Homo sapiens: one gene and its partners. The protein of the gene in region 4 purifies or fractionates together with the protein of the main gene of each other region. This does not show direct contact. Each region holds a gene or a part of one and is shown on either strand. Other genes may lie near its edges. The genes, in order: IPCEF1, SURF4, CD244, DOCK1 and ELMO2.

Region 1 (3,558 bases), on a different chromosome or scaffold from region 4:
ATTATCATGACAATTTGGTTACTTGTTAGATATGGAACATCAGCGTCTATTTGGGGGGGATATTTATTTACCTCAGTTTGTATTGAAATAAAAGTTCAAATATTCTGAAAATGATGCAATGTGATGGAACTTTGATCCAAATATAAAATCTAAGGCTGCAATTTAAGTGTACAGCAAGTGGAAACTTCTCAATAAATGGATGTTAGATCATTTTAGTGGTTCATCTGTAATCGTTGATCACTTTGATCCATAAATTTAGGCTGGTACCTGCATAAGTACTTTAATGACAGCATAAATAGCCAGGATTTCAAGCATATTCTTGAGTTTCCCTGTGACATAAGAATCTCTTAAATCCCCTTTTCAGCAGAATTTGAATTACCCTAATTCCTATTACATGATTATCCCCAGCAGAACAACATTCTTTTAACAGGTAAATATCATTATAGGAAGCTAATACATTTAATCTATGTAAAACTAAAAATATCTTTTTTCTCCTCCTCTTAATTGATCCATATTTAATTTTCTTTAGACTTGTTAATTTTATATAATCTTTTTCTAACTATGCAGTAGAAATCTGTGACTGGATAGATTTTTTCAAATTTGGACAGGGTAGAAGTTCTTTTTTTCCTGACTATTGTGAAGGAAACTGCATTCTTCAGAGTTTTATGCACTGATCTGTAACGCCAGAGAGGAATAGAACATTTAACTACTTATAGGCAAATGTACATATATTAATAGAGACTGAACCTTAGTCTAAAACAGGAAAATAGGCCAGGCACAGTGGCTCATGCCTATAATCCCAGCACTTTGGGAGTCTGAGGTGTGAGGATCACTTGAAATCAGGAATTTGACCCAGCACTTTGGGAGGCTGAGGTGGAAAGATCACTTGAGCTCAGGAGTTTGAGAACAGCCCAAGCAACGTATAGCAAGACCTCGTCTGTACTAAAATAAATAAATAAATAAAATAAAATAAAATAAAATAAAATAAAATTAGTTAAGTGTGGTAGAGCATGCCTGTAGTCTCAGCTACTCAGGAGATGGAGGCAGGAGGATCACTTGAGCCTGGGAGATTGAGGTTGCAGTAGGCAATGATCGCACCACTGCATTCATTCCAGGGTGACTGAGAGTGACCCTGTCTCAATAATAATAATAATAATAATAATAAGATAAAATAATACAAACCTCTGAGAAAGGAAAAAAGATGAAACCAACTCAAAACATTTCCCAGGAACCTTAATTTAACATTATTCACTCCTAAAGAATATAATTCTTTGTAAAGTGTCACAGTTTATCCAGAGATAAGCTGTACTTTATACAAAGTTATGTTTGAAGGAGAAAACCTTTAATTATTTGAAAAACTAAGCAAACGGCTGTAAACATGAAAACCATGCATTTTAGGCTACTTGTTTATGATTATTCTGTTTGAATAGCTCAGACTACAGCACACTATTGGATAAATCTGTAATAGTTTTATGGACTGATGAGAATATATATAATCTCATCCATTTCTTGAACATGTTTGAAGATTCTACTATTCTAATAGATTAAATGGTTGTTGCAGGAACGTTGCTGTTTATTCGCTGGGAGTGCAAGTCATTTGTAACAACTTTGTTCTTTCCACCGATTAAAAGCCTGAAGCAAATGATATTAAAGACCTTATTTTCTGGTTCCTTGTTAAGGCACAAATCCCAACCTCTTTTTCCATCCTGACAAAAAATAGTCAAGCAGTTGTTCTTACTAGTGGTTGTGAATGCTGACCATATAATATGATAAGGACCCACTTACGAATATTCAACCTTCACCAAATACTTATTGAGTACCTAATATTTTCCACGTAATGTGCCAGGTATTTCACTGCAATTAAATGGACAAGATCACCTTTGAAATTCCCCTGGAATCGTGTGAATTAGTATTGCCTCTTGGTTAGACTCAGTTATAGCCAGTCTATCAAAGAGAAGTGCCTGAACTTGAACTCTCTTGGTCAAATACACTCACAGTTTTCCAGCTAGAGCTGGATTTTACTCTGGAACACAGCTACCAGAGTTTTCCACACTTGGATTTTCAACTTGATTAATCAACTAGAGCAGCTTTTGCGTAGGTAATGGGGACTTGAGGGAGGGACTGTGGAGCAAGGTTTGAGCCAGGCACTCGAGTACTATTCAGTTTTATTTTGTGAACACTCACAAACATTCCAAAGTTATGTACAAATTAGTTGCCTTGAGAGGAACGCTGGAGTCCCAGATATTCTGAGCTGAGAAGCCAGCACGGGGAGAGAGACACCGAGTCACCAAAACACAGTAAGTGGGCTGAGCAATGAAGGCTCAGCGACTCCTGATTGCCTTGAAGTGACTTTGCTTTCAAGTTGGCATTAGCTGTAGTCACAGGGTCCTAGACATGGGGTGTAGTAATTTCCACCGGGCATTGCATCCTCTTTGTGTTCTGTGCATTGGGAGCAAGTTAGCAAGCGATCCCTCTGTCAATCTCAATGGACTTCAGGCATTGAGCACCAAACCACTGTCCACTCCCCACGAGCTCACGTTTCCTATCATTGTGGAGGTGGCCTTTTGCCAATGGATGGATGCTCCTGGCCTATGAAATATTCTAGGCAATGCCTGGAACTTTCTGGGCAGTAGGAGCCACTGAGGTGAGCCTTAGAGCAAGGCAGAAAATAGAGTCCAAGAGGACCCCTTCTTTCTATAGGCTGGTGAAAAAGTAGTCTTTAATGGCAAAACCTGCAACTACTTTTGCACCAACCTGATAATTGCAGCTTTTCCAACAGGCCATGCAGGGCTTCCCCAGCCCCACTGGCTGTGTGGCACATGGAGGTAACATGTACTGTCCTCTTGCTGTCTGCAAGGGACGGTGTTAAAGGCTTTACATTCATTATCTAATTTTTTAATCAAATAGCTCTAGGAAGTGCTGTTATTATTAACTAGTTCCCTTTCTCTGATGAGAAAACACAGGTTCAGGGAACTTCAAACCTGGCTCAAGGTCACCCAGAAATAGTACAGTCAGGGTTCCAACCCCAGCAGTTTGACTCTGGGGTCAGAATTTGAGCCTAGGCTTATTTGACCTGAGCGTCCAGTATATAGCTGTCCTGAGGGAATATACTATAATATAAGGAAAAGGATGCTACATAATTTCTTATTTTTGGATAAGGTTGCTTTGTGCTTGTCCACCTTTCCATTCCTGGAGCTGAGAATGTGTATAATCCAACCCCAGAGAGGCCAGAGGAAGCCTGTTTGGGTGAATAATGATTTTAGGAGTGCTCAGCCCAGATTTGCCTGAGCCTTGAGGAAAATCTCATTCCCAAAGACACTTCCAGATCAAAGCTGAGGAGAATTGGGGTTGAGGGTGATGGAGCATTTGTTTCTAATAATATAGATTGAAAAGGGGAAGAAAACAGAGATTAAAAAATAGGAAGGCAGAGTTTTGAGAGGATATGCTTGGATAGGGATAGAGTCTGGCCACCCAAATCTTACGTTGAACTGTAATCCAAATTGTAATCCCCACGTGTTGGGGGAGGAAACTTGTGGGAGGTGATTAGACCATGGGGGC
Region 2 (2,606 bases), on a different chromosome or scaffold from region 4:
GTCTGTGGAAATGCCTTTGGAAAGGCTGAGACTCAAGTATCTCTCTCTTCTTTCCCCTCAGACGATTGCCTACAGCATTTTATGGGACTTGAAGTTTTTGATGAGGTATGTGCATTCTGGTTGGTTTTAGTATACGCTCCTTCTACAGGTTGAGCATTGCAAATCCAAAGTCTGAAATGCTCCAAAATGGGAAAAATCTTGGGCACCAACATGACGCTCAAAGGAAGTGCTCATTGGAGCATTTCAGGTTTTGGATTTTCAGATTTGGGATGCTCAGCCAATAAGTATATAATGCAAATATACCAAAATCTGAAACACTTTGGGTCCTAAGCATTTCAGGTTAGGGATACTCAATCTGTATTTCTAAACTCAGTTAACTATTGGTTTGAGTAGACTTCTCTGGGTCTAAACCAAGCTTGTCCAGCCTGTGGTCCACGGGGTGAACATGGCCCAACACAAACTCAAAAACTTTCTTAAAACATTGAGAGTTTTTTTTGTGATTTTTAAGTTTTATTTTTTAGCTCATCACCTATCATTAGCATTAGTGTATTTTATGTGTGGCCAAGACAGTTCTTCCAGGGTAGCCCAGGGAAGCCAAAAGATTGGACCCCCCTGTCTAAATTGTGCCTCTTAGAAACAGGTTCTGAAGAGGATGTTGCAGAGCCCCTAGAATAGTAGAGACTGAAGCCGTCTCTTCTGACCCTTATTTCACGGGTGTGGGGACTCCGGGTCTGAGTGGAGGACAGACCTGACCACGGGGACCCAGCTGGTCAACACTGAAGCTGTGACTAGGACTCGGTTGTGTGTGTGTTCAGGTAGCCTGTCACTGTCGAGTTGTAAAGATACCTCTGTCTCCTGAGCTATGTAAGGTTTTACATGGGTGTAACTCGAGTCTGAGGTCCTGTGCGCATGCCTGCCTGGTCCTGCTTGGCAGATCACTGGGTTTGGAGAAAGGGAAGTAAGGGCCTTCTTATACTGGCAGCAAGGTCTCCCTGCACCTGGTCTCACAGACAGGCCAGATCCTGGTGAGGCTTAGCTTCCAGCCCACATATCTGTTCCTCAGGAACCTGGCCCTGGGAGGAGGCCTGTTGCTGCTCCTAGCAGAATCCCGTTCTGAAGGGAAGAGCATGTTTGCGGGCGTCCCCACCATGCGTGAGAGCTCCCCCAAACAGTACATGCAGCTCGGAGGCAGGGTCTTGCTGGTTCTGATGTTCATGACCCTCCTTCACTTTGACGCCAGCTTCTTTTCTGTAAGTATTCCTACTTGCCTGAACCGGTCTGGTTTCCTGTGAATGCTGTCCCTCCCCCACCCCCTCCCTGCTCACCCCTCCCTGGTTGGGTATTAACCACAGCCTGGGGGAGCTGCTGAAATGGAGCAAACTTTTTTTTTTTTTTTTTTGAGACGGAGTCTCGCTCTGTCCCCCAGGCTGGAGTGCAGTGCGTGATCTCGGCTCACCGCAAGTTCCGCCTCCCGGGTTCACGCCATTCTCCTGCCTCAGCCTCCCGAGCAGCTGGGACTACAGGCGCCTGCCAACACGCCTGGCTAATTTTTTGTATTTTTAGTAGAGACAGGGTTTCACCGTGTTAGCCAGGATGGTCTCGATCTCCTGACCCCTCGTGATCTGCCTGTCTCAGCCTCCCAAATTGCTGGGATTACAGGCGTGAGCCACCGTGCTCGGCGGAGCAAACTTTTTGATCCCATTAAAACAGACCAAAACATCGTCAATCTCTTGTGTGTCAAGCCTTCTTTCCAGCAAATGAAGGCCAGAACCTCTGACCTTGGTGGAGTGTGCTTGGCCCTTGGTTGGCCAAGGCTCTCCACCCGGGCTCCCCTTACTCTTCTTTCTTTCCTCACTGTTCGTATCTTTCTCAAGTAATTCCTGTGTGTCAGGTGTCAGGGGCAGGCCTCCAGGAGCTTCCAGAGCACACCTCCGGAGCTGACTGAGAGCCCTGGCCGGGTAGTGTCCAGGAAGAGCTCCTGGCGCCATGGAGAGAGGAGAGAGGATGTTTCTGGCCTGGATGGCTGGGTGGGCCAAGAAGCACTTGGGAATTTAGTTATGGATTAGAGATTCATCTTGGTAAATCACAGCCTGTTACTAGTTGGGAACTTCAGTCTTCCCCAAACCTTCCACATTTCAAAGCTGGTGCTTTATTGCCTCCTGCCTCCCTTTGGCTTTTATCTCCCTACTTGCACCAGCAGCCGTCTCAGCAGTAGCTACATCAGCCTGATGGATAGAGACTTCATGACGTGCAGCAGCTGGAACTTTTGTTTATAAAGCATCTCTTTTCCTCACATTTATTTTGAATTTCTTACGTTTCAACCTATGCAGATTGTCCAGAACATCGTGGGCACAGCTCTGATGATTTTAGTGGCCATTGGTTTTAAAACCAAGCTGGCTGCTTTGACTCTTGTTGTGTGGCTCTTTGCCATCAACGTATATTTCAACGCCTTCTGGACCATTCCAGTCTACAAGCCCATGCATGACTTCCTGAAATACGACTTCTTCCAGACCATGTCGGTGATTGGGGGCTTGCTCCTGGTGGTGGCCCTGGGCCCTGGGGGTGTCTCCATGGATGAGAAGAAGAAGGAGTGGTAACAGTCACAG
Region 3 (3,558 bases), on a different chromosome or scaffold from region 4:
AAACCCCATCTCAAAAAAAAGAAAAAAAATTAGCTGGGCGTGGCAGTGCACACCTGTAATCCCAGCTACTTGGAAGACTGAAGCAGGAGAATCACTTAAATCTGAGAGGCGGAGGTTGCAGTGAGCCAAGATCATGCCATTGCACTCCAGCCTGGGCAACAAGAGTGAAACTCCGTCTCAAAAAAAAAGAAAATCTGGTGTTTATATCCACTAAAAATATGTACAAGAGTGTTAATAATGGCTTTAGTCATAATAACTCAAAATGAGAAAAAACCCAAATGTCTATCACGATTAGATGAGCAAATAAATCGTGTTATAGTCTTATAAGGAATATTACACAGCAATGAAAAAGAAAAGCTACTTTTCCTGGCAATAATGTGGATGGATCTCACCACAATGATGAGTATTAATGAAGCTAGACTCCAAAAAGTACATAGTGAATTATTTCACTGATATAAAGTTTAAAATCTGGAAAAACTAATATATGGTGAGAGAGGTTAGAATGTGATTACCCTTGCAGGAGGGGGGTTATCAACTTGAAGGGCCAAAAAGGAATGACTGGGTGCTAGAAATGTGTTACATCTTGATGTGGGTAGTTTTGATATGTACTTACACATATAAAAGTTCATCAAGCTGTTGATTTAAATTTTGTGCACACAGCTGTGAGTTGTATCTTGGTAAAAAAGCAGAAAAAGAGTAATGACTACCTCTCACTCAACTGTTCTGACTATTAACTAAGATGTACTTTGATAAAAGCAAAATATGACTTGCCCATTGTGGAAACATTACCATAGCAAGTGAATTTGTAGATTTCCTCACTCATCTCAGCTAAACCCAACTCTTAGCTAAATATCAGAAAAGCCTGGGAGGCAGGGGTTGCAGTGAGCCATGACTGCACCACTGCACCCCAGCCTGGGTGACAGAGCAAGACCCTGCCTAAAAAAAAAAAAAAAAAAAAAAAAAAGTGAAAAAGGAAGATAGACCTAAAACAGCCAACTGAAATGCAATATGGAATGTGCTATGGAGGTGTGCCCAGGGTGTGAGGCAAGCATAAGGAAAGCATGTTTTCCTCTGCCCTGCAGAGTTAGGAGTGGCTGCCCAGAGGCGGTGGGTGGGAGCTGCCATTGAAAGAAAAAGCCAAGGCCTGCCTGGTGTATGCAGAAAGGAACAGGGAAGGTGGGTATTATGGACCCAGCAGTAGCATGGTTAAGGGAACACAAAACACACGTGTGGCTTATGGGTCTGGTAAAGATGGAGCAGGTTTGGAGAATGGGGTGATGGAACATGAGTTTAATTTTCAGGTGTTTAGTGGTGGTTTCACTTTATTTTTATCTTTTATAAAATTGTGAGAGGTAGCACAAGTATTAAAAGGTACTTAAATATAAATATACGGTGTAATGAAAAATAACGTAAACTCCCATATAATCCACCAGTAGATCAGAATGTAGAGCGCTATGTAGAAGAAGGTTGTTCTCTGCTATTATAAAACTGAATAGGAATCACACAGGAAAATGGTTAAGTTATTGTCTAGACTTCTTTGTTTGTTTGTTTGTTTTAAGACAGAGTCTCGCTCTGTCACCCAGACTGGTGTGCAGTGGCATGATCTCGGCTCACTGCAATCTCTGCCTCCCAGGTTCAAGTGATTCTCCTGTCTCAGCCTCATGAGTAACTGGGACTACAGGTGCCTGCCACCACCCCCAGCTATTCTTTTTTTTTTTTTTGTATTTTTAGTAGAGACAGGGTTTCGCCATATTGGCCAGGCTGGTCTTGAACTCCTGACCTCAAGTAATCCACCCGTCTCAGCCTCCCAAAGTTCTGGCGTGAGCCACCACTCCCAGCCATAGACTTCTAAATACTTAAAGAATGAAATGTGTGATCTACAGTCCTCATGCTATACTGCCTTTGGGGTCTTTTTAAAAATTAGGCCGTTATATTTTATTTTTATGTAATATTATATTAGTTTATACATTTAAGACTGGTTTGTCTGCAAATAAAAAGGAGCTAGAGAGAACACCAGGTGTTGTTTTGATTTTTCAACTGGAAGGAAACTGTACTAAAGGTAGGAAGCCCACAGAAAAGGAGCAGCTGAAGAAAGATGAGGGATGTCTTCACAGACAGCAGGTCCCAGGTGACTTCTGAAAGAAGCTCTGGTGCCCTGAGCACACAGGGGAGTATTGGTCAAGGACAGGGCAAGAACACTCTTGCCCTCAGCAGAGGCAAATGTGGCCATTTACAGGAGTAGATGAAGTACATTGACACTGGAGACTTGTTGGCAAGGTTGGTGGAATCCCTAACTTGTGCTTCTGTTTTCTTAAAGAAGGAGGTTGTTGGTTTGTGGAGGCTGAGATAGTGGAACAGGGCCTTGAAAGAGATGACGAAGGTGTGGAATTCTCCCACCTTTTGGGGAACAGGAGAAGCTGTGGGCCAGAAATGAGGATTCCCAGGACACTGAGAGTCCAGCTGGGGTTGGAGATTACGAATCTGTAGCTGCTCTTTGTTGCTGAATTTTCTCCTGCAGCCCCCAACAGTCCAGTGTGGGAAGGAGGAAGATGGTTGGAATGAGTTTCCATGGACGGCCTGGAAGGGGTGGGTGCCAGGGCAGGGGTGCAAAGCAGATACGGTGAAAAGGCAAGTAGACAAGTCACTATGTCCAGGGTATTGTGACTGATACAGAAAGACCTCAGTTTCTGTCCCAGAGGGGTACACACACCAGATAGGGGAGATGAAATGCTACTACGAAAACATAACTTCAACACAAGTTCTCACACATTTAGTGAGGCATAGAGGAGGACCCAACAAGTGAAAATTGTTTAGAGGAAAGAGGCCACAGTCCAGGAAGGCCCCCGGGCCCCTGCCACTGCTGTTGCTACTGCTCAGCAGCTTTGGGGGCCACCTTCCTGTGGTTAAGAACGGATGAGGTGAACTAGTAACTCTGAAAGGGAGGGCAGAGGGCAGATGATTAACTCCACTGCAGCCTCAGGAAGAACAGAGGATGGTCAAGGAGACAAGTACAGAGGATGGTGAAGGAGACAATCTGATCCAGCAGTGAGTCCCGCTCAGCCCTGAGCCCATGTGCAGAGCTCTGAGTCAGCTCAGCTTCCTCCAACCTGGACCTGCCAGTCGGAGGAAGGTGTGGGGCCTGAGCACCTGGGAGAAGGAGCACGGGAGGGTCTCAGAGCAAGTGGAATTTCCACCAGCCAACAAATAGATGTTAAGGTTTTCTCAGCTAGGGCTTGTGCTACCAGGCTTGGGGTGAAGGCATCAAAAGATGTACCTGCTGGGGACTAAGTGAACAGAGTCCAGTGAGATTCCAAAAGTACTGGGGCAATCCAGCTCTAGTCAGGGCAAAATCATAAGATAGATAAAGTATCCTATAGGGCCCACATCCCATTTCTTTCTTCCTCTCTATTTAGCTTCATACTGACCATATTAACTCTCTTCCTCAGGCAATGCAACTCCCTTACCTCTGTCAAAACTCACCTAGCCCAAGTCCCACTCTTTGCATCAGTTAACCAAATCATCTCATATGTGATATTGTTTCTCCATGATAACAAGTGC
Region 4 (3,558 bases):
TACAAGTTGTTCTTAAATTTAATGACATTTTGTAAGAACCCGTAAGGCATATTTTAAGGCCAGCATATTGCATGTGAACTCTTCCTGGCCCTTTCTCTGTGGTGTTATGAAATGAATGTCACCCTTTTCAGGGAAAAGTTTTCATTTACCGAGGGAAAGAGTATGAGCGCCGGGAAGATTTTGAGGCTCGGCTCTTAACTCAGTTTCCAAACGCCGAGAAAATGAAGACAACATCTCCACCAGGCGACGATATTAAAAACTCTCCTGGCCAGTGTATCCTTTAAGACAACCTCATCAACTCTGAAACCATGGTGATGCCATTCATTTGGGTGGTTGGGTGTGGTGGGGGGCCTCTCTCATGGTTGATGTCTATGCTGCCTTAGTGATCCTTAACCCCCTCACCTCAGATATTCAGTGCTTCACAGTGAAGCCCAAACTCGATCTGCCTCCTAAGTTTCACAGGCCAGTGTCAGAGCAGATTGTAAGGTAATAATCCCATTTTTCTTACCCAACGTGAGGGTTGTAAGAGGCTGTGTACAGATCTCTTGCTAATAATTCCACCTTTTAAAGGACGGACTTTGGCCATGGATTCGCTTTCCAAATGCTCTTTCTGTCCTCTTTGAAGAGCAAGGGAAGCTAATTATTTTCAGCATCCAAAAAAAGTGACAGGAGATGTTAATCCATGTGCTGGGAGCGTGCAAAGCCTATTCCTTTCCCAAAGTCAGCTGACAGCAAAAACCTAAGAGGGCAGTGGAGGCCGTCTGGTCTCCTTTATAGACCTGCCCTGTGGGGTACAATCCCCTAGGGAACTTCACAGCAGTGCACAAGTCCTGCCTGTTCCCAGCAAAGCCAAGTTCATACATGTGAGTGTGGCCTGAATGTTTGCATTTTAGAAGGCGGGAAATGGGATTTGCACATTTGCTCCTGGTGACACACAGGAGAACCCTTCAGCCTTACAGCACAGCAATTCCATAATGTAGGGTTATGAGGGGGCTTTTAAACCTCCTGAGTCAACTGTCCATATTTGAGTGAGATTTTCTGCCTGTCAGTTGTATCGCACCTGACTTAGCAATGGCATAGAAAGACCTGCTTTAGCAGATGTGTTTGATATTAAGACTTTTCTGTTCTGTTTGATCCATGTTCTGGTGAAAATATTAATCTCTTTGATGACCTCATATTCCTTAGGATCAGCTTCATTTTGCTTCCTGAAGTTTGGTGGTTTCTTTAACCTTTCATCGTTTCTTTGACCTTGCATCAGCAATAATGGGAAATAAACTGGGACCCTGTTTATTTACAAATGATTGCTCTCGCAAGGCATACATTTTAAGGGTTGCAACATTTTTTTTCAGAGGCCTTAAGCAAATAGTGACGCTTAGAGCCTTCTCAGATGCAGTAGTTTCTTTTGCTGTGGAAGCCTGCCTGCATTTCAGTGCAGGGGAGAAATCAGTCTCAGTCTCTCCACGCCCTGCCCTGTGCATGCGGAAAGCCTGCCTCGTACCCCGACCGCGGAGGCAGGTTACTTATGTTTCCTGTGTGTCACTCTTGGGGTGGTTGCAAAATCTGTGCTTTGTAGATCTGAAACTAAGGTATGTAATACTTTTTTAAAATAATAATAAACACATACGTTGAACACAAAAGCTTTTTTCTCTCTCCTTCGCTTCACCTTTCCTCTGTTTTTGCTCATTTCACTCTTACTCAGCTTCTGTTTTCCCTCGAGGGTTGGCAGGGACAGGGAAGAGGCAAAAACTCAAGTTAATTTTTCCACCTGCCAACATTTCCCTGGCTGGGAGAGGACACCAAGGCGATGGCTTCAGGTCAAGGTTAGGGACATTTTACAGGAGGCAGTGACATGTTCTAAGGCCAGACCCCGTGTCCAAAAGCAAATTGGCTATTTGCCGGGTTAAATATCTAATGATCTGTCTGTCTCTGTACAGTTTTTACAGGGTGAACGAGGTCCAGCGATTTGAATATTCTCGGCCAATCCGGAAGGGAGAGAAAAACCCAGACAATGAATTTGCGGTAAAAAACAAACAAACCACCAAACCAAACAACAAAAAATATCATTCCGCCACCAGTAGAACTGCCACTGGAGAAGCGTGGCCTCAGAGGCAGCCACGGAGCCATATTAAATGTCTTTGTGTATTATGTGCAGAAATCTTAATCTATTACCCCCTCCAAAGTTAGAAAAACTAATTGCCATTTCACTAACAATATGACTAAGGTCACTGAGATATTTAATAAGGAGACTGTGCCGTCCAAATGCCGGAGCTCCCATATGAGTAGCGCACTGCCTTCCCTGCGAGCCCCAGGTGAGAGAGCAGGTGCCTGTCATCTCTAGTTAAAAATGGACCCACCGAGTGCTGAGGTGCGGGGTGCTGACGTGGCTTTCTGCAGGTGACACAGCAGTCAGCACATGAACTGGATCTGGACCCGGGTGCTCATTCCTCATTCAGTATCCAGCACCTGAACTTCAGTGGAGCACAACACACAACTGCAGGGTTGACCCCAGCACTACTAGCAATACGGACCGGGTTATTCTCTGTGGTGGGGACCATCCAGTGCATCCAGGGATGTTTGGCAGCATCCCTGAACACTGCCTACTAGGTGCCAGTGCCACCACCCCAGTTGGGACAACCAATCAAAAAGATTTCCAGGCCAGGCATGGTGGCTCACACCTGTAATCCCAACACTTTGGGAGGCTGAGGCAGGTAGATCAAATTAGTTCAGGAGTTCGAGACCAGCCTGACCAACATGGTAAAACACTGTCTCTACTAAAAGTACAACATTAGCCGGGCGTGGTGGTGCACGCCTGTAATCCCAGCTATTTGGGAGGCTGAGGCGGGAGAATCGCTTGAACCCAGGAGGCAGAGGTTGCAGTGAGCCAAGATCGCTCCATTGCACTCCAGCCTGGGGAACGAGAGTGAAACTCCATCAAAAAAATAAAGTTTCCAGACATTGCAAAATAAAACATCTGCCCCTTGTTGCAAACCACGGCATTCGAGTTGTAGAAATAACAGCAAACATCTTTAGAGCCTTTTTTCTTTATTTTTTTATTTTTATTTGTTTATTTTTTTTGAGACAGAGCCTCGCTCTGTCGCCCAAGCTGGAATGCAGTGCCATGATCTCAGCTCACTGCAAGCTCCGCCTCCCAGGTTCACGCCATTCTCCTGCCTCACCCTCCCAAGTAGCTGGGACTACAGGTGCCCGCCACTACGCCCGGCTAATTTTTTGTATTTTTAGTAGAGACGGGGTTTCACGGTGTTAGCCAGAATGGTCTCGATCTCCTGACCTCGTGATCCCCCCGCCTCAGCCTCCCAAAGTGCTGGGATTACAGGCGTGAGCCACCGCGCCTGGCCCTAGAGCCTTTTAAAAATTCTACATACAAACTGCTTTCATGGATTCATTTGTATTTTTATTTTATTTATTTTTTTATATAGAGGTGGGGTCTATGTTGCTCAGGCTGGTCTTGAACTCCTGGGCTCAAGTGAGTGGATCCATGTTGAAAAGGCATCAAATAAGCCATAATTTTTTTAAAATGTTAATGTTTATCCGTCTTGC
Region 5 (3,558 bases), on a different chromosome or scaffold from region 4:
AAGCAATCCTGCCTTGGCCTTTCAAAGCCTTGGGATTACATGCATGAGCCACGCACCCAGCAAGACAGCTTAAATAGAAAACCTTCCTCTATTAAACCAGTATCTGTTTCTCTGTGACTTACCATCGTTAGTGGGCCTCCCAGATGCCTCCAGTATTCCCTTGGTAGGAATTTTTTAAATCCATAGGCCAAAGCGGTACAGAAAAGATGCAGATAACTACAGATTGGTTTTGGCATACTAATAACTCCCTGATTGATTCCACAAACATTTATTTAGCAACTCCTAAGCTGTGTGAAAAAACTAGTTCTGCCTCAGGTTTGGATGTCCACAGAAGGGCCTCTGTGAGCTATCCACAGAGTAGTAACCTGCTCCAAGGAGCAGATGGCACATATCTTGTCCCTGGCCTCCTAGTCCCGGGCTGCACGCCAGCTGATGGAGAGGACCCAGTCATCCAACATGGAGACCCGGCTGGATGCCATGAAGGAGCTGGCCAAGCTCTCTGCCGACGTGACTTTCGCTACTGAGTTCATCAACATGGATGGCATCATTGTGCTGACAAGGCTCGTGGAAAGTGGAACCAAGCTCTTGTCCCAGTGAGTATGACTAAGGTCTCGTTCCAAGGACTTCGACGATTTACTACATCCCACAGGGCATCCTAGTCTCATTTCCCTTGAGTCAAATAAGGAGTTTATTGAATACCACCTGTGTGCAGAGCAGTGTGCCAAGCACTAGAGTCCATACCAAGATATATAATTCCATATTGTGATTCTAAATCGTGTAGTCTATTTGGGCTCTCACAAATTAAATAACAGTACAAAACAGTACTGTGCCAAGTGAGCAGTGAAAATAGGGGCTAGAGAAGTCAGGAGGAGAGCAGTCACGTCGTGACAGACCTGTTAATTGCTGGAAATGTTTGGTTTGATGAGGGTTAGTGAGCAGATGGTCCAGTATCTCCCAGGTGTCTGTTTGTAATCATCCCCTGCTCCTCCCTCTTCAGTCACCTCCCAGCCCATACACACACACACACACACACACACACGCCTTCCTTTGTGTTTACCACAGGTGTCAACCTACCCATTCACCATCTCCCTGCCACACTTTTGCACAGGGAGGAGGAGACCAGAACTTTGTGATACCCACAAGCATCTTCATCATACCCCAGAGTTCACATGCATGCGGTGGGCAGCTGTGCCTTGTGAGCAGCAGTCAGTAAACAGGTGCTTGGAGCCTAACCTGCCAAAGAGGGAGTCAGAAATCTTCTCAGCCCATAGATCAACTATTGAAATTGTTAGCCAAATCGAGTAACTAATCATAGATATTTGTTTTACATATTGGATCTTCCAGCTGTATTGAAGTCCTGAAGCCTTCAGCTGCCATCAGCACTGACATAGTTCTACAGTCTCCCAAGGGTACAGGGTTAGACTGGCCTTAGTTTCACTCTCTTCAGCCTGAGGATAATAATAGCTACCTTGCAGTATTATTGTGAGAAGTATTGTTAATGAGAATGTGTCTGAACATGCTTTGTAAATAGGAATATCATCTGTTAATTCTAGAGCACTGTACAGATGTATAAAGGATTAAATGTATAAGGAGAAGAGAAAAAAGAGAAAACATTTTAATCCTTATTCTCTACCAGCACTAGAATAAGAGCTTTGCATACATCATCATCTTGTCGTCTCCACAACCCTGTGAGGTTAACGCTGTGAGACTAACTTGATTTTACAGAGGAAGAAATTGAATTTTGAAAAGATAAAATTTGCTTGGTTAGTAAGGTGGACAGGAACTGAACCCATCTCTTGCACTCTACTGCCTCTTGGCCCAAAGGTTAACATGGCACTTACACTTCCTTAGGTTCTCCCAACAGGTGTTGGAGTTTGACAAAGGTCCAATGTCTTCTTTGGTCTTGGGAAATAGATAAGTGATTCTGTGTCCCTGGGATGAAGCATATGGAGAAGGAAGATCTAATTACCCAGCAACATTTTTTTTTTTTTTTTTTTTTGCAGCGATAGATACCTGGGCTGAATCTGCTCTACACTGGCTAGGTGTGCACACAGGCACTTACAGTTACAGTTGCATCGACTGATTTCCCATGGGGTGTTCACATTAAAATTCATCTTTTTTGTGGCTGCCCTCACACCTGTGTTTCCCGATCTGAATCTTTGTCTATTTTGTGTGTGTGTTGCACGTGTCTCAGCTACAGTGAGATGCTGGCATTCACCCTGACTGCCTTCCTAGAGCTCATGGACCATGGCATTGTCTCCTGGGACATGGTTTCAATCACCTTTATTAAGCAGGTGAGGCCTCCAACATTCTGTCTTTCTCTCCTCCCTCAGCTGCCAGTTCACAAGGCTTAAGGGGAGATACAGGCAATATCGCCATTCTGGTGAGATCAGCTTTATATTCCCTGGGGCCAGATTTTTCATCCTCAAGCTCTAGTCTTCTGTGGCTTCTGAAAGATTTGCATTTTGTTATATTCTCAGGGCCTGCACTGAGATGGAACTGGACCGTCAGAACTAAATATGATCAAAGTAGAATTAGATTGTCAGTGAGACTGGGGATAAAGCCAGCCAGTCAACCAGTACTAGCCCTGAGTCTTTTGACCGACTTCCTGAGCTCTCTCTTCTTTTTGTATATATATAAAAAAAATTTGCATTTCATTTGTAAATTTGCCTTCTATTTACAAATCTGCAAGGTAGCCTGTTTGGATTGTCAGACTAAGTTCAGTGGGTAGGAGAGGGTACTTCTGGTTTTACCCTCCTTTCTTTTACACAAAGGAGCAGTGTCAATTCAGAATACTGAACTAAAACCAATGAATAATATTGTATCTGCTGCCCTAGAACTTCAGCTATCATTGGCTTAGGACATTGGGACTCCCCGACACTGGACACAAGTGAAATGACCATGTGTCAAGGATATTATAATGGGGACTGAGAAGAAGGATTAGAGTAAAAGGCTTCAAGGTCCTTTCTACCTCTCAAAGTCTAAGTGTGTTTAGGGGGAGTGTGTGTCAGGGGAGGTACATGGAGATAAAATGAGATCCCAGTATCAGTAAAATCCTCTGCTTTTTTATACCCCACTTTCTCAAACTGGAACCCTTATTTTGATAAAAAGAATTAAGCTTTTAGATTTTGAGGAAACACAATTAAGTGGATACTATAATCTGAGATTAAGGTATCCATGCCAAGGGAATCCCTGGCACATTGGCCAGGGTAGCCGTAAACCAGATACCACTATCCACCTAGCAACAGCTGCCCAAATGTGAAGCAGAGAGAGCTTCAAGGGCTAGCATCAGATGCTAAGCTTCTATCTTTCTTGGGCCCTGAGCTTCTCAATTGATGTGCCATCTCTGGGTCTAGATTGCAGGGTATGTGAGCCAGCCCATGGTGGACGTGTCAATCCTTCAGAGGTCCCTGGCCATCCTGGAGAGCATGGTCTTGAACAGCCAGAGTCTGTACCAGAAGATAGCCGAGGAAATCACCGTGGGACAGCTCATCTCACACCTCCAGGTGTGAGTAAAAAACCCTACACCTCCCTCCCTTCACTTGTCTGTCCTCTTTT

What was found.
Region 1: the proteins of DOCK1 (region 4) and IPCEF1 purify together in Homo sapiens (affinity purification with western blotting, with the first as the bait; one study listed by BioGRID). This does not show direct contact.
Region 2: the proteins of DOCK1 (region 4) and SURF4 purify together in Homo sapiens (affinity purification with mass spectrometry; one large-scale study listed by BioGRID and IntAct). This does not show direct contact.
Region 3: the proteins of DOCK1 (region 4) and CD244 purify together in Homo sapiens (co-immunoprecipitation; one large-scale study listed by IntAct). This does not show direct contact.
Region 5: the proteins of DOCK1 (region 4) and ELMO2 purify together in Homo sapiens (affinity purification with mass spectrometry, with the first as the bait; one large-scale study listed by BioGRID). This does not show direct contact.

Annotation. Positions count from the first base shown.
Region 1 is NC_000006.12:154,346,791-154,350,348, reverse strand, and holds part of IPCEF1 (interactor protein for cytohesin exchange factors 1), read left to right. Parts: intron 1-3,558. UniProt on the Homo sapiens protein: Enhances the promotion of guanine-nucleotide exchange by PSCD2 on ARF6 in a concentration-dependent manner.
Region 2 is NC_000009.12:133,363,484-133,366,089, reverse strand, and holds part of SURF4 (surfeit locus protein 4), read left to right. Parts: intron 1-61; coding exon 62-105; intron 106-1,063; coding exon 1,064-1,250; intron 1,251-2,330; coding exon 2,331-2,597; 3' UTR 2,598-2,606. UniProt on the Homo sapiens protein: Endoplasmic reticulum cargo receptor that mediates the export of lipoproteins by recruiting cargos into COPII vesicles to facilitate their secretion.
Region 3 is NC_000001.11:160,852,845-160,856,402, forward strand, and holds part of CD244 (natural killer cell receptor 2B4 isoform 1 precursor), read right to left. Parts: intron 1-3,558. UniProt on the Homo sapiens protein: Heterophilic receptor of the signaling lymphocytic activation molecule (SLAM) family; its ligand is CD48.
Region 4 is NC_000010.11:127,408,906-127,412,463, forward strand, and holds part of DOCK1 (dedicator of cytokinesis protein 1), read left to right. Parts: intron 1-131; coding exon 132-273; intron 274-407; coding exon 408-486; intron 487-1,349; coding exon of another isoform or gene 1,350-1,511; intron 1,512-1,934; coding exon 1,935-2,019; intron 2,020-3,558. UniProt on the Homo sapiens protein: Involved in cytoskeletal rearrangements required for phagocytosis of apoptotic cells and cell motility. Along with DOCK1, mediates CRK/CRKL regulation of epithelial and endothelial cell spreading and migration on type IV collagen.
Region 5 is NC_000020.11:46,386,074-46,389,631, reverse strand, and holds part of ELMO2 (engulfment and cell motility protein 2), read left to right. Parts: intron 1-411; coding exon 412-593; intron 594-1,841; exon of another isoform or gene 1,842-1,932; intron 1,933-2,194; coding exon 2,195-2,294; intron 2,295-3,356; coding exon 3,357-3,508; intron 3,509-3,558. UniProt on the Homo sapiens protein: Involved in cytoskeletal rearrangements required for phagocytosis of apoptotic cells and cell motility. Acts in association with DOCK1 and CRK. Was initially proposed to be required in complex with DOCK1 to activate Rac Rho small GTPases.